Homo sapiens: one gene and its partners. The protein of the gene in region 2 purifies or fractionates together with the protein of the main gene of each other region. This does not show direct contact. Each region holds a gene or a part of one and is shown on either strand. Other genes may lie near its edges. The genes, in order: UBR2, SMOC1 and NAF1.

Evidence for each region.
Region 1: the proteins of SMOC1 (region 2) and UBR2 purify together in Homo sapiens (affinity purification with mass spectrometry; 2 studies listed by BioGRID and IntAct, with this or other methods). This does not show direct contact.
Region 3: the proteins of SMOC1 (region 2) and NAF1 purify together in Homo sapiens (affinity purification with mass spectrometry; 2 studies listed by BioGRID and IntAct, with this or other methods). This does not show direct contact.

The regions. Positions count from the first base shown.
Region 1 is NC_000006.12:42,559,201-42,567,502, reverse strand, and holds the start of UBR2 (E3 ubiquitin-protein ligase UBR2), read right to left. Parts: upstream 3,475-8,302; 5' UTR 3,184-3,474; coding exon 3,106-3,183; coding exon of another isoform or gene 2,972-3,105; intron 1-2,971. UniProt on the Homo sapiens protein: E3 ubiquitin-protein ligase which is a component of the N-end rule pathway.
Region 2 is NC_000014.9:69,874,413-69,882,415, reverse strand, and holds the start of SMOC1 (SPARC-related modular calcium-binding protein 1 isoform 1 precursor), read right to left. Parts: upstream 3,001-8,003; 5' UTR 2,738-3,000; coding exon 2,639-2,737; intron 1-2,638. UniProt on the Homo sapiens protein: Plays essential roles in both eye and limb development. Probable regulator of osteoblast differentiation.
Region 3 is NC_000004.12:163,128,443-163,136,308, forward strand, and holds the end of NAF1 (H/ACA ribonucleoprotein complex non-core subunit NAF1), read right to left. Parts: intron 4,815-7,866; coding exon 4,712-4,814; intron 907-4,711; coding exon 455-906; 3' UTR 227-454; downstream 1-226. UniProt on the Homo sapiens protein: RNA-binding protein required for the maturation of box H/ACA snoRNPs complex and ribosome biogenesis.

The DNA of each region.
Region 1 (8,302 bases), on a different chromosome or scaffold from region 2:
CTCCTTGGCCTCCCAAAGTGCTGGGATTACAGGCAAGAGCCACCACACCCGGCATGTTTACTTTTAAAACCGTAATCACTCACTGGAACATACTATAACCATATGTAGTATAGAAAGTAAACAGAGCCAAGAAGTGTTGGGAAAGTCATACTTATGGAGTCAATTCTAACAAGAAAAGAGAAGAATGAGAAGAGAGGGCCACTGTAATATCCTAAACTTACAAATATTAAAGAGTCAGCTTAGATACTTTTCTTTGTGAGGCATACTAGCTGGAATGGATGGGATCACAAAAAGTTCTTCCTCCTTATAACAGGAATAAGAAAAGCGGTGTGTAAATGAAATGTGGAAAGGTTGACACTAGTGCTCATTAGGTGATTTTTAAATGGAAGTGATCCTAACAAATTACCAATGACAGAGGTCTAAAGCCTACAATCACTGTTTTCTCTACTTGTTTCTCTTCCCTAAAATGTGCTTTCAACCTAAGAAAAAACTTTATTAATTTAAATGTGTGATAAAAAAGCTGAAGCCTAAGCTGAAAAAAACAGTTTTAAATGTTAGGTGTTTTAACTTAATACAGACAGTAAAGTCCTCACAAAGTAAGGCAAGATTAAGGTTATATAGTTGAAGGAATTTTATATTTTAATATTGGTTTTTGAGGTAGGAGGATCTCTTGAGCCTAGGAGGTCAAGGCTGCAGTGAGCTATGATAATGTCACTATACTCTAGTCTGGGCAACAGTGCAAGACCCCATCTCTTACCAAAAAAAGAAAAAAAAAAACTTATTGTTCAGAAAGGCATTTAAAAGTAAACAGGGTAGGCTGTGTGCGGTGGCTCACGCCTGTAATCCCAGGACTTTGGGAGGCCAAGGCGGACGGATAACCTGAGGTCAGGAGTTCGAGACCATCCTGGCCAATGTGGTGAAACCCTGTGTCTACTAAAAATACAAAAATTAGTCAGGCGTGGTGGCGTACGCCTGTAATCCCAGCTGTAATTCGGGAGGCTGAGGCAGGAGAATCACTTGAACCCCGGAGGCGGAGGTTGCAGTAAGCCAAGATTGCGCCATTGCACTCCAGCCTGGCGACAGAGCAAGACTGTCTCAAAAAAACAAACAAAAAAAGTAAACAGGGTAAAATGTAGCTCAGATTATGATCTTCACAAACTCAAATGAAGTCCAAATTAATAATTTTTTGTTGCATTTTCCTTGATTTTTCCTTACTGCATCTGCTTGAGAATTTCACTGAACAAGAACTAGGAGCACTGGCCTCCCGCACTACTTTTATAACCAGTTTCCTCAGGAGCCTCTACAAATTGGAGAACCTCTAATCACTTGATAGTTTGCACTTTTAGAATGGGATAACGGAATTTGTACCCTGTATCACTGGACCAAGACACAAAATTCAGTGAGAGAAAAAAAATCAAAACAGTACTTTGAGGTAAGCAACAGATATCAATTAGAAGAGGCATGGAGAGCAAACAGCTGTCATTATTATTTAACAGTTTACTTGTAACACTACTTTCATTTTCTTTTTTCAAATCTCCGATAAACGAAAGGCAGAAATTCCTTGAGTTGTACAACATTAAGTAGAAAGTAAATGAAAACAGACCTAGGCTAAACAAGTAAGTAGGTTTAAAAAAACACACCAAGGCAGGGCGCAGTGGCTCACGCCTGTAATCCCAGCACTTTGGGAGGCCCAAACAGGTGGATCACCTGAGGTCGGGAGTTTGAGACCACCCTGACCAACATGGAGAAACCCCAACTCTACTAAAAATACAAAATTAGCCGGGCGTGGTGGTGCATGCCTGTAATCCCAGCTACTCGAGGGGCTGAGGCAGCAGAATCGCTTGAACCCGGGAGACTGAGGTTGCGGTGAGCTGAGATCGCGCCACTGCACTCCAGCCTGGGCATCGAAAGCGAAACTCCGTCTCAAAAACAAAAACAAACAACAACAAAACACACCCAAACAAGCAAAGATTCAGCATTTAACAACGTATTTCTTTAAAGTCTTCACCTCTACTCCTGACATTTCTTTCTACCCGGACTTAATGTCCTCACCAATTCACGCAAAATAACTACTCACTGACCAACAGCTCCACAGTGCCCCCAATCCCAAATTTTGTTCGTAGCATTCAGATTGCTGACTTTTATTCACGGGTCACTCCCTTCCTAGCAGCCTTTTTAATTGGAGGTCTTAGAGGTGGGGCCCAAGCTGTCTTGGTCCATTCATAATCATTCTCGGCAATCTCTTCTAATGGGTGTTCCTACAACTCTGCTATTTACACTAGCATATTCATATTACAGTTTTAATGCAATAGTGCGTTTGAACGGTTTTACGTTTGGAATATAACTGCTCCTACTACACTGTGACCAGTTCTCACGTTTAGCTTATACAGTATTTGTTGAAAGCTGCTCTATCAACGTTATATAACATTTGTTCTCCATCCAATTACCCCTAACTCCTAGAAAAAATATTTTTAAAATTTCCCAGACTCCACGACTACTTTCTCATACTCAGTAAACTTTCCACACATGCATCAACGTTGTCAACTAATCAAACCGGTGCAAAAAAAAAAGATAGCACTGAAACGGATAACGAAGGGTAGTGTCGTTTGCCTTCTTGGTGCCTGGGGCAGTCCCAAAAACAAAAGAGGGGCTCGGTTAGGGTGGCATGTTTAGTCGGAGGAGCACACGGCTTCGCTTGTCTCAGGAAAAGCAATTAACTAGATAAACTAGGGCGATTATACCAAAAACACAAGAAGCGTCTCTTCTCCTCTTCCAAGAGCTGATATAAAGGGCAAAGGCCCATGTGTTGGGAGACTTAATGGGAGGCTGGGGGAAAGGAGGTATGATGGAAGAGCCGTGGGTTCTCCTGGGCAGAAAGGGAAAGTAAACGTAGTTAGTGCACAGCGCAGCTCTGGCAGCTGTTGAAAATGGAAAGAGAGGGGCAGGATCGGTGGCCTCCCCGGGCTATTACCCCACAAGGCGAGGGCCGGCACAGCTGTTTCCCCAAGTCTGGGTCGGGCTGCTCCAGGACGTCCAGGAGTCGGTTCCTCCCCACAGGCGCGGCCTGCGAGGGGCAGACGCACCCGCCCGGGTTCCGGCACTCACCCCCGCAATCTCCTCGGCCGAACATTCCAGCAAGCTCCGGTCGATGGCCTGCACCTCTGGCTCTAGCTCCGACGCCATCTTCTCTCCTCCTCCTCCCCAGCGCTACCGCCGCCCGGAGAGCTGCAGCCTCACCTCGGCCCCGGCGGCCTCGACTGCCACCCCTGCCCCAGGCAATCAGTCCCGGAGCCGTCCAAGTGGCTGCAGGTGGAGCAACAGAGGGAGAGAAGGGTGACGTGAACCGGAAAGGAAGGACAGCGGCCTCCTGCGCTCCCTCCCAAGCTTAGCGCCCAAGAGTCAAGTCACTGGCTCGTCCCTGACCCAGGGAAGGACACAGAAAACCCCAGGCCTGACACTCTCGCTGGCCACTACCGCGTCCTGCACCAGGAAAGGGGCAATAACACCCAGGAGGGGAAGCGGAGCTTTCTGGGTACTGTAGTTCTGGGTGCTGTAGGTACAGCACAGCCGGGAAAAAGGTGGCGCCCTAACACGGTGCCCCTCGAATGCATTGTGGGAGTTGTAGTCCATTCTCAAGGGGCGCTGGCTTAAATGGCAGATAAGCGGGCGGGGCTTTTCTGCCCAACGAGAATCATGGGAAGACAGTCGCGGAAAGCAGCGCCCCCTGGAAAAAAGCCAAAGAGAAAGATACTGTGGGAACTGTAGTTTTATTCTCCGAATCTCGTTTGTTCATTTTTGTATCCCCAGCTTCAAGAACACTGCCTGGCACATGGTAGACCCTCAAGGACTTGCCAGTCTGGCATAGGGTAGGCACTCAAATACTTGTCAAAGGAATGAATGAATTACATTCTATTCCTGTGGTTCTATGTCCTGTCATCCATCGAACCCATATCTTTTATACGAGTAATGGAGGTGAACATTACCCACTTTTTTGAAGGTTTAAAACATGTTTTAAAAAATTTTTCAAAAACTTTAGTGATGACCACTTATAAACTTTATCACAAATCTTGCTGCAAAGGAAAAAGAGTCTATTAGGCCAATTAAAAGATTTCCTCTTGATAGAGACATTTAATTTCTACAGATAATCAGACCAAGCTTGGTGGCTCATGCCTGTAATTCCAGCACTTTGGGAGGCCGAGGGGGGCAGACTACTTGAGCCCAGGAGTTTGAGACCAGTTTGGACAACATAGCGAGACCCTCTTGATAAAAATCAAAAAATTAGCCAGGTGTGGTGGCACGCCTGTAGTCCCAGCTACTCGGGAAGCTGAGGCAGGAGGATTGCTTGAGCCCAGGCAGTTGAGGCCATCGTGAGCTGTGATCAGCCCACTGCACTCCAGCCTGCGTGACACAGCTGAGACCCTGTATCAAAAAAGAAGGAAAAAAAAAAAAAAGAAATAGGTAAACATTGTTAGACTAGCTATCAAAGAAAACTATGTTTAGTTAAAGGTAATTAGACTCTTGACTGACAGCTGGGTGACTGGGCTTCTTAGAAGTCTTCAGTCTCTAGAGTTTGTCAGAAAATTGTTTATACCTTTTGTCAAGTGTGTTAATTTATTCCCAGAAGTAGGTTGTAAATTACATATAGGGGGGAAAAGTTCTGAGCCAGACCAGGTTTAGGACATGTTTATGTTTATGTTGTTTTGGGATTTTTTTTAAACCAATACTATGATATTAACCAGTTTTTTAAAAAAGGAAATAAGAAACTGCCTGTATCCCTGTAACCTCACAATACAAGTAAGCCTTCTTATCACTTTTTAAAAGTTATATATATATATACATATAAAACATCAGAAATTCAAACTCGAAAGGAATGTTTTAAAAAAGGAAAATTGAAAACTTCCTATTCCTCTTACCCCAAGTCCCTCTCCCCAAAGAAAATCATTTTTGACACTGTCTTATGAGTCTGTCCAGAAAAAAGTATGCACATATCTGTACAGATATTTATAATGAGATATCTTGAAATATTCTTCTATGTATTTTTCTTTTTTTGCCCAACTTCCTTACACTGATCCACTCAGGACAGAGTCAACTTGGAAGAAAACTGGGATTGTCCCAGCCTAGAAGCAAAAACAACATCTCTTGAGCTGTCCTAACATAGAATTTAAGTCGTTAATAGACTGTAAAGGCAATTTCTGTTCTTAACATTATTTGCTTCCTAACATTATTTGTTTCAGGCCGAGCATTGTGGCTCACACCTGTAATACCAAAACTTTGGGAGGCCAAGATTGGAGGATAACTTGAGGCCAGGAGTTTGAGACCAGCCTGGGCAACATAGCAAGACCCCATCTCTACAAAAAAATTTAAAAATTAGCCGAACATGGTGGCCCATGTCTGTAGTCCTAGCTACTTTGGGAGGCTGAGACAGGAAAGATCACTTGAGCCTAGGAGTTCAAGCCTGTAGTGAGCTATGACTGTATCACTGAACTCTAACCTGGGTGAAAGAATGAGAGCCTGACTCAAAAAAAAATTGTTTCCCTTGTGTGTCATAATTATGAATTTGGAGATCATCTTCACTTAGCATTAGTAGCATTAGCAGTGGGACTCTCCATGTATTAATACTTTCAAAATACTTTTTCATTTGCTTCTGCAAGGCCAGACAACCTAGAAAACATCGTATACTCAGGACCAGGCACTCTAGGAGTATCCTGTATCTAGGACCAATTGTACGTCAGTTTCTAGGCTTGAAGATTCCCTAATAGTATTAATTCAGTTGTGTGCCATTTCTCTGTCTATAATTTTTGTTTTTTTGAGACAGAGTCTCACTTTGTTGTCCAGGCTGGAGTGCAATGGTGCAATCTTGACTCACTGCAACCTCTGCCTCCCGGATTCAAGCGATTCTCCTACCTCAGCCTCCTAGGTAGCTGGGATTAGATGCGTTGGTGGTATAGTGGTGAGCATAGTTACCTTCTAAGTAGCTGGGATTATAGGCACGTACCATCATGCCTGACTAATTTTTGTATTTTTAGTAGAGACAGGGTTTCACCATGTTGGTCAGGCTGGTCTCAAACTCCTGACCTCAGGTGTTCCACCCACCTCAGCCTCCCAAAGTGCTGGGATTACAGGTGTGAACCACAGTGCCCGGCCTGTCTATGAATTTTTAAGGAGAGTTCTTTTTCCTACTCAGAGTCAAGGTAAAGAGCTTCTTTGTCATTTTTGTATGCCAGTTGGTGGGTTTTTTGTCTAGTCTACCCTTTCACTGATACGACATTCCTTTGAAAGCCCTGGCTTTATGTAGAGGATCTCAGTTGCAATTCCAATGTTTCTTTGACCCAGGGTCTTGTTTTCTGTTCCCATGGGGGCATTAAGAGCTAAGCCCCAACTTCCAGTTAAATGTGGCAGATTGAATACCTCATGACAGTAAAGGGAGAAAAAAAGAAAAGAAGAGAGGATGACAGCACCAAAATTTGGTGGAAAGCAAGTGGTTGAGAAGTAACTAAGAGAATGCTGAAACCTCCGCTAGCAGTAGAGACACTGAGTCAAGCTAATTAATATGCAGTACCCTGAAAGACTTAAAAATTTGAGGCACCATGTAACTCTGAAAGTGGGTGAAGACAATGCTAAAAGCAAGCTTATTGTTTGAAAGTCTGTATAGCAAGAAGTTAGATCTCACTTCCTACTCTGGAAGAAGACTAGAGCTTTATCCTCTAGAGTGACTACACTTGAGGGCCTTTTGACTGGGAGACACCAGACACAGCTGAGGACAGGGATACCGCACTGCATTCAAGAGAGATGAATCAAAGTCTACATAGTGAACAGGGATAACCTAGCTTATTTCCCCATTTGGCTCTGAGAACCTTAGTGGCCAGGCTTATACCTCCCAGGCAAGAGTTTGGGAGGGTCTTCTCCAGAGGGGTAGATTATCTCACCACCAAAAAAATCTGTAGAGGTCATGCCTGTAATCCCAGCACTTTGGGAGGCCGAGGCGGGTGGATCACCTGAGGTCAAGAGTTCAAGACCAGCCTGGCCAACATGATGAAACCCTGTCTCTACTAAAAATACAAAAAAAGCTGGGCATGGTGGTGGGCACCTGTAATCCCAGCTACTCGGGAGATTGAAGCATGAGAGTCGCTTGAATCCAGGAGGTGGAGGTTGCAGTGAGCCGAGATTGTGCCACTACACTCCAGCCTGGGTAACAAGAGTGAAACTCCATCTCAAAAAAAAAAAAAAAATTCTGTAGAGGATAAGACCCCAACAAAATGGTATAGTCAGTTCACCCCACCCATGCATAAAACTTCTAATCATATTTTTAGTAAGTCATTCTTAAATATGAAGACAGGCGGTTGTGTACAGATACTTGAGCAAAGCCTATGGAAGAGAGACTAAAACAAAAATGACGAAGGAAGAAACAGACACAAGTCAGAAAGTTGGAAAGAACTTTTACAAATGTTATTAAAAACACTGGAGGAGATAAGCAAAGATTTTATATCCAAGAAAGAAGTACAGGAGGCTAGGGAAAAGGAGTTTTTGTTTGTTTATTTGTTTGTTTTTGAGACAAAGTTTCACTCTGTCACCAAGGAATTTCACTCAATTTTTTTTCTTTCTTTTTTTTTTTTTTTTTTTAAATAGAGAGTCTCATTCTGTCATACAGGCTGGAGTGGGGTGGCATGATCTCAGCTCACTCCAACCTCCACTTCCCAGGTTCAAGTGATTCTTCTGTCTCAGCCTCCTGAGTAGCTGGGATTACAGCCACCTGCCACCACACCCAACTAATTAACTAATTTTTGTTTTTTTTTTTTCAGTAGAGACAGGGCTTCACCATGTTGGCCAAGCTGGTCTGGAACTCCTGACCTCAAGTCATCCGCCCTCATTGGCCTCCCAAAGTGCTGGGATCACAGGTGTGAGCCACGGCTCTTGGCCATAATTCAGTATTATTTAAATCACCTGAAGCATTGGAAAGAGACACTGAGTTCATCAATAAGGTTAAATACATTATGATGCAGGCCAGGCACGGTAGCTCATGCCTGTAATCTCAGCACTTTGGGAGGCTGAGGCGGGCAGATAGCCTGAGGTCAGGAGTTTAAGAGCAGTCTGTCCAACATGGTGAAAACCTGCTCTACTAAAAATACAAAAATTAGCTGGGCGTGGTGGCAGGCACCTGAATCCCAGCTACTTGGGAAGCTGAGGCAGCAGAATTGCTTGAACCTGGGAGGTGGAGGTTGCCGTGAGTCAAGATCACGCCATTACACTCCAGCCTGGGTGACAAGAGCGAAACTCTGTCTCAAAAAAAAAAAAAAGAAAGAAA
Region 2 (8,003 bases):
GCGAGGACTGGGGTCTAGGCCTCGGGGGAGCTCAATTAGTGAGCCAGATAAAGTTAAACTGAAAGGGCATGCTCTTGGTTTCCTAGAAAGCCAGCTGGAAAAGATGCCAATCCTTAAGCCTCTGTCACTCAAAAGATTAACAGAAGAGACTTAGGAGCGCCCACAGGGAATAATGCAACAAGCCAGATGTTTCTGCTCCTCGGATGACGCCGCTCTCAACAACCAGAGCTACACTTTTGAGGCCCCCAATAAGCCATAGAAAAGAACTGGAGTCTTTGGGGATAGGTTGAAATTCAGTCATTTGCCTTAAGTGATACAGACACCAAAAAAATATTAACAATTTCTCTGCAGACTCCCCTGATGTATCCGGGTTCTGTATTTCTCATCGAGCCATCTCTTTCTTTAACAGAAACAGCATCACTCGGATGAACACTCACTATAGCTGCCTGGTGGTGGGGAGAGCACACAACTTTTCAATCCATATAAACTGGAAGCTCAGGCAAGTCGATTGGCCACCCTGAGTCTCACTTTGTCATCTGTAAAATGGCTTTTAAAAGACCCAACTTCTTGTTCTCGTTCGAGTAAGAGATCATGTAAAGTGCCCAGCCCAGATGTTCATAAGTGGTAGCTCTTATTGTTATCTATAAACACAACCAGGTAACCACATGCTCGAGACAGCACCTTCTCCTTGGTACTTTCTAAACACACCAAGATGTGTGTGCACATGTGTGTGTGTGTTTGTGCATGTATGTATTTGAGTGAGAGAGAGAAAGAGGGAAAAAAAGAAAGAAGGAGAGAGAGAGTGTGAAGCAGCTTGGACATACACCAGCCTATTTACAATTCCTGCTTACGTTCCATCACTTCTATCAAATTAATAAACTAGAGGAGCTGGAAGGAACCTAACCACGGTGCCTGATTTCCCCTCAAGTCCCTAGCTTTCCCCTAAAGGTTGCTTCCTCTGATTCCAGGAGGCCAGGAAGGAGAGCCATATGGCTTGAGACTCTAGACAAGCCCAGCAGCAAACAAACGAGCCCCCCACCATTTGTCTCAGGGCCTCTCTCCTTTCGACCCTCCTGTGGGCGGCCATCCAGATTTCAGTCGGGGTGCTCTGGTCTGCATCTCTGTCTTGACTGTTCCTAATTATTGGAGGGAACGCATGGCTCGCCTGACCTCAGAGTTTAAGAGCTCTGAGTCCTAATATCAAACCAAGCAGCTTCATTTAAAAGGCATCCTCATCTGCATCCATAAAAGTCACTCCTGGAGCCCTTACTTGCCCCAGCTTTGGGAATGCCTGCTGTCGAGGATTTATGACACGCCCTGGATCTAATCTGCCACACTTTAACTGCTGCTGTTGCACATCTGGTCATAAAAGCAAGGGCTGGCCCAACACGGGGACAAACACTTTTCTTTCCTAAATGGCTGCAAATCTGATCTCACAGTGATACCTGGGCTTGGATGTAATCAACCCAGCATCTGGGCAGTCATTAAGACTTGTCAAGCATTGCAAGACTTTTTCTCCACACGACAGCTATAAAGATGATTCTCATATAGTAAAAGCTATGAATAAACAACCTGCAATCTGAACAGGTGGTAAAGGGCCAGGCCCAAGGATGTTCAAGAAAGAAAGCACGAGTTGGTTGAGCCAACCTTGTTTTCACAAAGATCCTAGCTACTTTCACATGGACTCTCAGGCTGCCAGTTAAGAGTCAATTGCCCTGACATAAACTGATGCTTGGCCAGAGATTGCCTGGATTAAGTTTGGTCAAAAGAACCACTAGGTCGTTTAATAGTACATGTTTCAAGGCAGTGAAATTCTTTATTAGACCAATTGGTGGGGGGTGTTGCGGGGATAATCTAGACCAGAAATGAACACAATACTGTCGGTTCCAGGAGATTTTACAATGCCCTGGACAATCTGTCCTGTGCACAGAATTGGCAGGTTTCATGTCGTTCAGAAACTCCAATCAGACCAAGGTTCAACGAGTAATTCAACCTCCCAGCACTGAACCCAGGGGGAGAGACCCCTGAACATTGCGCAACTCTCCCCTCCCACCTCTTTACAGTACCCCACCTCTGACCCTCTTCCAGTGCCTGCCCGGCAGGAGGTGACATTAAAATTATCTGCTGTGGGTTTTACGAGCAGTGATCGCTTTTTAAAACAACAACACAAGGTCCTTGTGTGGCTCGCGGGTAACCTAAAACTCTCCAGGCAGAGCTGCACCCGCCCCCGTCCCAACCCCCGCCGCCTGCCAACAACTCCAGCGCGCTGGACCGGGCGCCAGCGTGAGACCACAGGGAAGCCCTGCATGAGCGGAGAGCGAGCTTCTCTCCGACGCAGGAGGCACCTCTGAGGGTCTTGAGCAAAATGCAGGAGAGAAGAGATTGGGAAAGAAAACCCACCAGTGACAGTTCGGGGACAGGGGAGGGATGGTGGGTCAAGAAAGGGAGAGTGGTGGTGGCTCCAATGGGAGAAAAAAAATATTTCAGCAACTTCACCAAGCCCGCAGGGGACCTGGTAGTAGACAGAGGACAACAGGTCTCTGACATCTCTCTTCCCCCTCCTCCTTCCCTCAGGGATGAGGGGGGAAGCAACCTCCCCTCCCTCCGCAGGTGGGCGCAAAGCTGGGGGCGCACTTACCCTGGGGCCTGTGGTGCGGTGGCCGCGAGCAGGGGACAGCTGCACCAACACCAGCAGCAAGTGGGGCGTGAGCAGGCGGGCGCAGCGCGCGGGCAGCATGGTGCCAGCCAGGCTGGGCAGCCGGCAGCGAGCGGGGTTCGCGGGCTCCGCGGGGCGCACAGCGCGCCTCCCTTCCTTCCTTCGCTCGGGGCCCTCGCGGCGGCGGGGAGCGGGCCGTGGTCCTGCGGCGGGGGCTCGCAGAGGCTGCGGTCAGGGGACACAGTCATGAACCGCGCAGGAGGGGAGCTGGAGCGCGAGCGTGTGCTCTGCGCGCGGCGCTAGCTCCGCTCGGCGGGGCCCAGGCGGCAGCAGGTTGGACGCCTGAGCCCGGGCCATGGGAATTCCCGTTATAAACCCCCGGGAGGGGCGGGGCGGAGCACGGCGGGCCTGATTGACGGGCCAAGAGGCCTGTTGAAGCCGACCCTCTGGCAGGTGAAAGCCAATGGGAGAGGGGCAAGAGGAGCCACTCGTGGTCAACCCCCCGCCGAGGAGCTCCGCGGGAGTAGGCCCCGGGAGAGAGTGGGATAAAGAGTAACTTTCTCCCGGCACTCCTGCCCGAGGAAGCCTGAGAGAGCCCCAGCAGCCGGCACCCACCAGAAGGCTCACCTGGCTAATAATAATGCCTTAAGCATGTATATTTCTTAGCTCAAGCTCGTGATTGTCCCAACATCCTGGTGAAGTAGGCAGGGAAAATACTCCTAGCCCCATTTATCAGATGAGAATGCTGTGACACGAAGGCGCCGAGAGATCTGCCTCCCTGCTGCATCTGGGAAGAGTAACTGGGAAGTCGCTGGATGACCCGCACAGGGTGGGCTGTGGCGTTGGAGTGGGGAATGGGAGCATCCACTTCTTTCAAAGACTCTCCCTGGGAGGTGACATCCTGAGTCTCACAGCGGCTGCCCCGGGAGAAGTCGCAAGGGACAAGGTGAAGCGTGTGCTGGGCATTGGCCGCTGGGGAGGGCCTCTTGGGTACGGTAACCCCCTACACACACACACACACACACACACACACACACACACACACACACACACACACACATCTCCCAGCCCTATGGTCCGTATGATCCAGGATTGGAACTCAGGCATCCTAGCTTCCCCCTCTGAACTGGAGGGCAAGGGGCAGCCTCTCTATAGCCCAGCAGCTCTGGAAGAGGCGGGCAGAGAGGCCCTGGTCCCCTGATGGGAGACAAGGAGGAAAAGTATAGATGAGGAGGCGGCAGTCTGAGGATGCAGAGATCCCAGAGATGGGGTAGAACAAGGAGAGGAGATCTCTCCCGGGTGCCCGACCCTCTTGGAGAGGACAGCTCAGCGGAGCTTCAGTCAGATGTTGGGGGGCTCTGCCCAGGGCCATCCCCGGAAGGCCATCTTGGGAATGGTCACAGCTGCATCACACCGGCTCCTCAACAGAGCAAGGTGCTCAGCTGCCTTCAGTGAGACTGACATCTCCAGGAAATCACAGGGAAGGGGGCGGGGGGGCGCAAAATGAAACCCAGAGCGATCTCCTTATGTGGAGAACAACCTTTAGTGCTTACTTCCATCAGTATGGGCTACTTCGCAGGGAGGGATTCTTTTCTATAATTTGATTGTAAGCATCAGTGCCACACTCCCCCTCCCTATCTGGTCTGAGAGGTCCTAAGATTAGCTCTGCTCCCTCAGGGCTTCTCTCCTGGATTCCATGAAACAGCTTCGCACCTGACTCCTGAATTCAGTTTTGCCCTCTCTCCACACTGGCCCCATCCAACCTCCACACGGCAGCCAGTGTGTCTATTCGCTATTTAGAAGCCAGTGATCCTTTTAAGCAGCAAACCGGAACTCACCATTCCCTGCTTAAACGACTTCCCCTCTCCCCATTGCCCTCTGACAAGAAAGCTCAGACTGGATGCTGGAACAATAACAAAGTACTTGTGGTTCTCCAAACAAAAATGAAGCGCACTTCTAAAAGAATGGTCTATCTTTTCCTCCACTGGGAATGAGTGCTTTGGTCAGACAGACTCTGGAGCTGTACAGCAGGGTTCAAATCCTGAGTCTGCCACCTAGTGGTATAAGCTTGAAGAAGTCACTTGACTCATCCAGGGTCCCGTTTTTCTCTCTGTAAAATGGGGATAAAAATAGTATCCCCTGCCATGAGATGTTGTCAAAAGTAAAGGAGATGGAGTCTTTAAAGCCCTTAAAATAATTAAGTGAAAAGTATCACAATATGGCATTTGAAGAGGACAGGACAAATGCCTCATCTCATTTTATCCTCAGAACAATCTTCTGAAATAGGTCAGACATTCCTACTTTACAGGTAGATAAGTGAATACTCCATGAGATTGTGACTTGCCTGGCCTCATTTGGCTGGCAAATGACAGAGCCGAGACGCCGAGACTCAAGGCAAGGTTTTTGGAGTCTAATTCTGCTTCCATCATGTGATGGCTGCAATCTCCAGTCTCAAATCCCATAGGGTTGGACGTTCCTCTGTGCTAATTGGGAATTTCTTCAGTGGCCTACAAGGTGAACTGAGACTGGTGAGCTCCACTGAGCTTCAGAGGAAAAGGATGTAAACATCAGGGGTCAGCCCTTCCTGGAAACAGCCCTTGTGACCTGGCATCCTGGAGTTTGCCCAGCTGGACTTGTGACACTTGTCCAGTACCGTGCCCTGTGCAGCACTGACATCAATATCCATGTGTCCACCTAAGTGTTCACCCTCCAGGGGCTCAACAGGATGGAACTGTTACCATCGGGCTCAGCAGTGTGACAGGCTTTTCCTGACTCTACCACCTGGCTACATTCACCTATCAAGCTGGTCAACTCCTTCCTGTTGCTGGAACTATTGAGAAATCTGCTGGAGTAAGTAAATATGCTTCAGATGGCCCTGAGTATCTGGCAGCACAAAGTGCCCAGGGAAAAAGCATTGCAATAGCCCTTTCCATCCCTAACATCAAATGCTGCTTTCCAGCCAGAAAGCTTATTTCCAAGTGTTCACTGGTCCAAAAATCTACATTATTCTGGATTTCAATCATGTAGTTTAGTTCAAACTATGAGCAACTGCTTTCCAGTTACTCTGCTCAGCAAGTATTTTCTTTCCCTCTGGTTGGCATATGAGGCCTGTTGTAACCATGGCCATCATTCAGATGATGCATTTTCTTCTCCCAACTCCTCCCAAGCCCAGAGAAGGTTAGGAATTCCAGAGAACCACTAGTCCCAAACAGTATCTCTCTGCCAGGCTTAATCTTCTGATCCAAGCAAAAAAAGTAAAATTGACAAGTTTCTTCTTTCCCTGGAGGCCAGACTCATGGTCCAAAAATAATCTGACTATCTTGGCATCTGGTTTGTCCAGTTTCAGTCATACTCCTTGTCTTGTGGGACTTCTATTTGCAATGGGATATTTCAGTAGATGAAAATTAATACTTTATATCACAGATTGAGGTCTGAAGGCCTCAAATATTTAGTACTAACTAGAAATGCCAGTTTCAAATATATCTGTGTTTCTGGCCAGGCGCGGTGGCTCACCCCTGTAATCCCAGCACTTTGACAGTCCGATGTGGGCAGATCACTTGAGGCCAGGAGTTTGAGACCAGACTGGCCAACATGGCAAAACCTCATCTCCACTAAAAATAGAAAAATTAGCCGGGTGCAGTGGTGTATGCCTGTAATCCCAGCTACTCGGGAGGCTGATGCAGGAGAATTGCTTGGGAGATGGAGGTTGCAGTGAGTCAAGATCATACCACTGCCCTCCAGCCTGGGCAACAGAGCGAGACTCCATCTAGAAAAAAAGAAATATATATATATATATCTGTGTTTCTATATAATCCAGAGGATTCTTTCCTCATCTCATCTTCAGAATAGAATCTTTTCATCCATTTTTAGTAAGCACTTTGATGCACCTCCTTCTACGCCTTGCACAATGTTCATTATTATGATGGATCTTTGGATGCACACCCAGCCCTCTGAGAGGTTACCATCTAATTTAAGACACAGACCAGAGAGATACCTGGGGACCACATTTAAGAGTAAAGCTGGCCAGGCACGGTGGTTCATGCCTGTAATCCCAGCACTTTGGGAGGCCGAGGAGGGCAGATCACAAGGTCAGGAGATGGAGACCATCCTGGCGAACACGGTGAAACCCCATCTCTACTAAAAATACAAAAAATTAGCCAGGTGTGGTGGCGGGCGCCTGTAGTCCCAGCTACTGGGGAGGCTGAGGCAGGAGAATGGCGTGAACCTGGGAGGCGGAGCTGGCAGTGAGCCGAGATTGCGCCACTGCACTCCAGCCTGGGCGACAGAGTGAGACTCCGTCTCAAAAAAAAAAGAGTAAAGCCTGCAGTGTGTTGTAGGAACTCAGAGTGAGATGACCCACTGTAGGCCTAATGGGCAGGAAGGTCTCATGATGGAGGTAGATCCTGAATGAGGCTCTGGAGCAGAGTGCTTCTATAACATAAATATATCCTGATTTATATTTGCTTCATTTGTTACAATAGCTACCAATGGAAAGAGGTACACTGTATCTAAGGTCCAAGACTTTTGTCAAAAACACTAGTGAGCTTAGAAGCTTGAGACATTAAGATTCCTAGGTTCTGCTTTTAGATTTATGACTAACTTGCTGTAACCTTAGCATTAGGCTAAGGTAAGTATTATTAGTCCCAGTGTGCAAATGAAGTTTACCCGCAGACATTTAACCTTACCAAAGTCACTCCTTTAGCTTTAAATACACATGACAAAAATAATTCGAGTGACAAACAATTTAGAAATTTAGCTCTCTCTTTGGTACACAACTCCATTGAAAGTTTCGGGCAGCTTCCTCCAAGCCAGGCTCCTTCTATTATTTCTCTGTCATAATAAGCAGCTCTACCTGGTGGTACAAGATGATTGCTTAAGCCCCAGCCATCATATCTATTTTCCAGCCAACAGGAAGGAAAAAGAGGAAAGAAGAGCATGCTCCTCTTTTTAAGGACACCTCCCAGAAGTCACGTTTCATTTTGTCTCATTGGCTAGAACTTGGTCATATGACCACATTCAGCAAAAAAGGGCTTTAAAAAATGTAATCCTAATTGGAGGTGACCACATGTGTACAGCTAAAAGTCAACGTTTATGTTACTAAGAAAGGATACAATTCTGGGACACAATTAGAAGTAGAGGCCATCCTCATGAGTCGTCCTTGAGTTGCCAAACAAAAGGAGGCCACAGCATTCAAGCTGTGGTTTACCTCTAGTTCTGCAGACCCAGCTCCCTGGTACTCGAAAATATTAATGGCTCTTATGGACTAAATATGTCTCCCTGAAATTCATATGTTGAAAGTCTACCAGCTCCATGTGATGGCCTTGGGAGATGAGTCCTTTGGGAGATA
Region 3 (7,866 bases), on a different chromosome or scaffold from region 2:
ACTCACAAATTACATTTATAATTAAAATTGATTTCCAAAGTATAAATTTATAAAAATAGTTTAAAGACTCTCAAAAGGACTTCATCTTATATTCAGATTATAGCAAGAAAATCAATGTGCTCCATATATTTTACCCATGATGAAACTTGTCCCATATCCATTACTATATATATATATATATAGTTTAACTGGGTGGGGTTGGGAGGGAGAAGGCATGAATTCAAAATTTTAATTAAATATTACATAATTTAATGTTCTCCCAAGAATTTGAGCTGACATTTTCATATGAATACAATTTCACAAAGGTTACAAATATATATCAACTTACAACAGAAGGAATCATTTAGTATTTTACAGTGTTTTTAAAAATCTAGCTCCATAATCACTCTTGAAAAAAAAAAATCCTTACCACATAATATGAAAAGTCCACATTTCTCTGGAAATGCATAGTCACCTAATAGTAAGGTCCAAAATGAGAATTACTATCTCCAGAAGAGGGTGGAGGAGGCAGTGGTGGAGGGGGAGGGGGTGGGGGTAGGGAGTATGGTAAGTTAAGTAATGGATGAGCAGCCATGTTTGGTGTAGCCCAACCCATGTTTACAGGTGGGGGTGGTGGTGGGGGTGGAGGGCGGAGGGGAAAATTATGCATGTCAAACACTGGAAGAGGAAAGGGGTATTGTGGCATAATGGGATTATTTTGTCTCTGAGAAGGAAATCCTGAAGTCTCCTGAGATACCATATGTTCTGAGTTATAGAAATGCTGAGGTGGAGGCCTGCCATGGCAAGATCGAGGGTATCTGGCCCTGGAAAATCCTCGTGTGAATTCTCTGTTACGATATCCTTTTGCATGCTCTGAAGCAGAGCTATGAGCATTCCAATTCTGATGTACTTCAGTAAAATCTTCACCTTTGAGTGAGGGGAGGGAAAACATAAAAAGGAAAATAAGTTTAATATATCAAAAAGCATTGTTTGAAATTTCAATTATGATTTTTATTATCCAGTATATCTTGTGGCAGTTAAAAAAGTGTAAGACATAAAATGGTAAATTTGAAATGAACTGAAAAGACAAAACTTAATGCCAAAGAAAGAGAACCCAGCAAGTCAGAAAACACTTAGATGATAACCATTCTACTCTAGCCAAACACCACAGAAGAAAATGTGGCACCATCCCTACACACTCTCAAAGGCTGAGTACAGATCCTAGACTTCTATCCTTGACAGGCAGTAATGAGGTACTCCAACCCTTCCACCACAGTAGCATCAGGAACAGGCTGAACAGGGTGCCAGTAACAAGCCTCCCTGCAAACAATGAACATCACATGGGGAACCTGAACTTCCACCTCCACTGGCGGCAACCCAGTGTTCTTCCCTCTTTTACACTGGGGCAATGTCAGAGAAGATGGAGTAGAGTTAGGATTTTTGTCCCCAACCAGTGATAACAAGGCCATCCTCCACTGGTGTCAGTGCATACCATATGGGGAGGAGTGACAAAGTACTCCTGTCCCTACCAGGCATAAGACCTCGTGGGATGTCAGAACTTCTACCCTCATCCAGCAGTAACAAGGCACCCCTTGGCCAAAGGTGTCAACAGAGGCTAAGAGGAATACCTAGACTTCAATCTACCCTGTTCCTTTCGCTGCCAGAGTAGCATTTTTAAAAAGACAAAGAAACAATCACAACAAACCCAGCTAAATCAGAAGATTTACATAAGATCCATGGTCTTGTAATATAATACTCAATATACCCAGGTTGCAATAAAAGAAAATTGCTCATCACAAAAAGAACCAGGAAGACTTCAAATTCAATGAAAAAAATAAATCAAGCAAGGGTGTCACAAAGATGTTAGAATTATGAAAGGTATTAAAGCAGTCATAAAAATGCTTCAACAAGATATTATGAACATTCTAAAAAATTAAAATTACAAAGTTTTAGGAAAAAAAGAAGATATAAAATAAAGAACAAATTGCAATTTTAGAACTGAACATTACAATAACCAAAATTAAAAACTCAATGGAACAATATTGAAGGAGAAGAACAAAGCTGGAGGACGGAAACTACCCAACTTCAAGACGTATTATAAAGTTTAAGTAATCACAGCAGTGTGGTACTGGTGAAAGGACACACAAATAAATCAATGGGACAAAATAGAAGGTACAAAAATAGACCCACATAAACATACAAAAATAGACCCACATAAACATAATAAACGGATATTTAACGAAGGAGCAAAAGCAATACAACAGAGCATAAGTAGTGTTTTCAACAAATGGGGCTGGAACACCTGGACATCCACATGCAAAAAGAATAAATCTAGACAATAACCTTACACCGTTCACAAGAATTAATTCAAAATGGACCACAGACCTCAATGTAAAATGCAGAATTACAAAATTCCTAAAAGATAACATAGAAGAAAATTTAGACAACCTTGGGTTGATAATGACTCTTTTTTTAGAGACGGAGTCTCGCTCTGTAGCCCTGGCTGGAGTGCAGTGGCACGATCTCAGCTCACTGCAACCTCCGCTGCCCGGGTCCCAGCTGACGCAATTCTCCTGCCTCAGCCTCCCAAGTAGGAATGCGCCACCATGCCCAGCTAATTTTTGTATTTTTAGTAGAGATGGGGTTTCACCATGTTGACCAGGCTGGTCTTGAACTCCTGACTTCCTGATCTGCCTGCCTCGGCCTCCCAAAGTGCTGGGATTACAGGCATTGGGCCACTGCGCTCGGCCAATAATGACTTTTTAGATAATGACTTCTTAGATAGGACATCAAAGGCATGACCCATGAAAGAAATAATCAATATGCTGAATTTCATTAAACTTAACAATTTCTGCTCCACGAAAGATACTATCAGGAGAATGAAAGAAAAAAGCTCAGAAGTTCAAGGTTACAGTGAGCTATGATTGTACCACTGCATTCTAGCCTGGGCAACAGAGCAAGAATATCTCAAAAAACAGACAAAAACAAAAACAAAAACAAAAAAACCTCAGCAAGACATTTGTTGATGTAGAGAAGATTCTAAAATTTATACTGAAAGGTAAAGGACCTAGAATACCGATTATAATTTTGAAAAAGAGAAATAAAGTAGGAGTTATCACTCCACGCAATTTTAAGACTAACCTCACATTCTATACAAAATTTAACTCAAAATGAATCACAAGTGTACAATTTAAAACAGAAGACTACAAAACTTTTAGGGAAAAAATAGAAGAAAATCATTAGGATCTAAAGCTAAGCAGGAAGTTCTCAGATTCCATAAACAAAATTGATAAATTAGTTTTCCTCAAAACTAAAAACTTTAGTATTGCAAAAGGCCATCTTAAAAGAAGGAAAAGACTACAGACTAGAACAAATCATGAACGAACCAAATATTTGACAGAAAGCTAGTATCTAAAATATACATTTTTAAATTCTCGTAACTCGACAGTAAAAATCCAGCAATACAATTTAAAAGTTGGCAAAAGATAATGAACTGACATATCACTGAAGATACCGATAGTAAATGAACACATGGAAAGATGTTCAATGCCATTAGCCATTAGGAAAATGCAAATTAAAACCACAATTATATTAGCACTACAAACCTAGCAGAATGGCCAAAATTAAAAACAGTGATAACACCAAATGCTGGAGAAAATGCAAAGAAATTGTCACTCATACATCGCTGATAAAAATGTAAAATGGTATAGCCATGCTGAAGAACAGTATGGTAGTTTCTTAGGAAACTAAACATGTAATGCAACTATTATACAACCAAGCAATTATACTCTTGGGCATTTATTCCAGAAAAATGAAAACCTCTTTTCACAAAAAACCTGTATATAAATATTTATAGCTGCTTTATTCCTAATAACCCCAAAATGGAAACAACCTAGATGTCCTTCAATGGATGAATGGTTAGGTAATCTGGTAAATTCATGCCATGAAATGTTACTCTGTAATGAAGAGGAACAAACTATTATTGATACATGCAATAATGTGGGTGGATGCACAGATACTACGCTCAGTGGCAAAAGCCTTTCCCTAATCGTACTACAGTGTATAACTTCACTTATATAACTTTCTGGATATGACAAAATATATGAAAATGGAGAACACATTAATGGTTGCCATGAGTGAAGGAGGGGCTGAGAGGTAAGGACGTGGCTGTGACTATAAAGAGGCAACTGGGTAGCTCTCTGGTGATGGAAATGTTGTATAGCTTCATTGTATAACTGTCAATATCCTGGCTGGGACAGTGTTCCATATATAGTTATGCAAGATGTTGCAACTGGGGGAAACTGAATAAAGGGCATACAGCACCTCTCCTATTATTTTTACAACTGTATGTGAATCTATGGTTATCTCAGAAAGTTTAATTTTCAAAAAAGGTAAAGGGAATGCATGTTTAAAAATAAGACACTGTGATTTAGGGGTTCATCAAGTACTTGATCATAAAATCCTAAAAATGGAAGCAAATAGGTATCTTAAGAAAAAAGTGCTGACAAGCACGAGTAACAAGGTTTAGTCTCTCTGTTACCCCAGGAAGCCATTTTTACTGCTTAAGCTCATAAAACTACCACACCTCCTGCTATGTAATGGCTCTAAATGTTAGCAGGATGCTAGGAGGTAAACAGAGAGAACCCAGATGTTTCCTTCAGTTTTATTATTGATAAACTTATATAGATGTAAATGAAGATAAAGAACGAGTATATATATTGTATTCACTCACCAGGCTCATTAAATTCAGATTTGAGTTTTTTCCGGCCTTGAATCTGAGATTTTTTCCTCTGTTTGGCTTCCTTCTCTTTTTCATCATCACTAAAATCTAAGGCCTTGCAGAGAAAAGTATATAATAGGTTTATGTTACATGAATTTGCCAATTCAATAGTACATACTTGGAGGTGAAGAAAATAAGCCTATTATGCATCAATGACTCTAAAAAAAGTTGTCTTTTTGATACTTAATATTTTCTATATCTGAATTAGACATGGTATAAAAATAAAGCATTTTTTGATAAATGCTTAATGACTTTAATTAACACAGGCCAGTAATCAGCCTTCAGATATGAGTCTGACTTCCAGTTTAGACTTAAAATTCATCATAGTATCAGATGCAAAAGGGTGCCAAAGGTAAGAGTATCAAGGACTAAGCAAATTATATATATTATCAGAGCCAATAAAAAACAGAAGACAATGTTCCATAATTCATTCATTCAAAATACACACCCAAGCACTGTTCTAAACATTTCACAGGTTCATTCTTTACAGGTTTACCATCTTATTTTTTAAATATAATTTTAGGTACAGAGCAAGAGTTATAAATAAATAAGGCAAAATAAGGGTATACAAATCATGGGGAAGCTATTTAGATAAAACCATAGGCAAAAGCTTTTTTGTGTGTGTGTGTGCAGTGGTGCAATCTCAGCTCACTGCAACCTCTGCCTCCCAAGTTCAAGCGATTCTCCTGCCTTAGCCTCCTGAGTAGCTGGGATTACAGGCGCACGCCACCATGCCCAACTAATTTTTGTATTTTTAGTTTGAGGCCAGCCTGATCAACATGGCAAAGGCTTTTATAAGCAGATACATGAATGATCCAACTCCTAAGAGGAAATTATTTAAAAATTAAAGGTGGTAAAACTCACATTAACTAATTATTAGGATTCATTGTTATAGTCCACCAAGAAAACCAAGATTATGAGCTATATATATTATGACTGTCATCTATAGTTCAGGCATTTTATTATTCTATTAATTATTCTATTAATTTATTATTCTATTAATGCCAGAAAACGTCTATTATGTTTCATACAAAAAATATATGAAAGCAGGCCCACCATATATGGATGGATACACATTTAAAAAGAAGAAATAAAATGTATATGAAAGTCTTTGTATGTAATTTTCAGTATGGCTTCACTGGAATACATTCTAGATCAAATCCTCCATGAACCAGGAATCCATACACTTCAGATTCTGAAATCTAATTTGAAAACATGAACTAATTGTATGCCTTCCAATGCATAATTTCTTATTACTGATCTTAATACGATAAGATTTTAAAACTCAGGTTAAATCTGGTATCTGAAAGACACTAGAAAGTATGGAGATCAGATAGAAGACTCCTTTTTCTGAGAAAACAGATTAAATGTACAATGAACAAGTGCTACGACTTAATGCTATGTTATTATAGTGCTGGATAAAGAGAAAAAAGGAAAAGATAGACTTCTTGGTATGGATAACCCAACAGAAATACCTGAATGAGTTAGCTATGAAAATAAAGGGAATTTTCAGAAAATGTGAACAATACACACAGAGGCATGATAGAACAGTATATACAAAAAAGAAAAATGGTTCTGAAAGGCAAAGTGAAAGCTGCTGCTTCTTACATGGCAAAACCAGAAAAAATAAAATTGGAGAAGCTTACAAAGAACCTTATTGTGCCATTTTAAATAATTGAACATCATCTTAAGAGCAGGAGGGAGGAAGTAAGGATTTTAATTGGGAATAGTTTATTTCAGAGAGATTACTCTGGTAGTATTTTGCTATCACTCCTAAAATCAGAGAAAAATTCATGTTTCTTATATGCAAATTAATTCAAATTTCCATTCATTAAATACATTTATTCAACCATAAAGTATACGGTGGCATATTAAAAATGGCTATGAAGATGAACATGATACAACCGTAGGTAATTTTTAGGTCCTTTATGCAGCCCAACATTTCATAGCACATAATTTCTCTTATTTTCCTTTATGCAAGCTTTCTATTTTCACATCACGCAATGTTTCTCCTTTTTCTCTTTTTAAGTTTAAACCTCACAAATTTCTAATTTTAATCTATGATCAATACCAGGCAATAATTCTAGACTACAAAGTTTCACCAACAAATATTACAAAATTAAATCCCAAGATACTTAATGATCCAGTTCAAGCTACCTGGAAAAAACAAACACCATGAACTAGGTGAGATGTAATTTTGCAATTAACCTAGTCAAACCAATTTTACAAATAACTCGCATTGTTGTAATTGGTAACTTCAATGCTTAGGTCCGAAACAAGAGGGATTCATTAGAATATCTGGATTTTGGCCAGGTGCGGTGGCTCACGCCTGAAATCTCAGCACTTTGAGAGGCAGAGAGGGGTGGATTACTGGAGGTCAGGAGTTCAAGACTAGCCTGGACAACATTGTGAAACCCCGTCTCTAATAAAAATACAAAATTAGCTGGGCGTGGTGGCATGCGCCTGTAATCTCAGCTACTCAGGAGGCTGAGGCAGGAGAATTGCTTGAACCCGGAGGCAGAGTTTGCGGTGAGCTGAGACCGTGCCACTGCATTGCAGCCTGGGCAGAAAGAGCAAAACTCCATCCCCTACCCAAAAAAAGAAAAAAAGAATATCTGGATTTTAAAAGAAATATGATTTGAGATGTTTATGAATCTCTAAACACGTTTAAAACATGTAATTCCAGTAATAAGATGCTATAGATACTCTAAAACTTAATTCAGAACATTAAGTGAATATTCAGAGCCTTAACTGAAATCACATAAATACATAACATTAATTAGAAAACATAATTCCATTTCAATTCAGATACTAAGCAAGGATCATTCACTGGTTAAGTGATTCATACCTGTATAGAACCCTCCAAGTGGGCATAAACCTGATTCATACCTCAGTAAAATTAGAAACACAGATCATGATTTACGATTGCTTTAAACATCTAAAATGGCCAAGGTTAAATCGGTAAGTATCAAAAATCTGTAATACTGGCTGGGCAAGGGGCTCATGCCTGTAATCCCAGCACTTTGGGGAGCCAAGGCAGAAGCTTGCTTGAGGGCTGGAGAATCACTTGAGGCCAAGAGCTTGAGACCAGCCTGGGCAACACACTG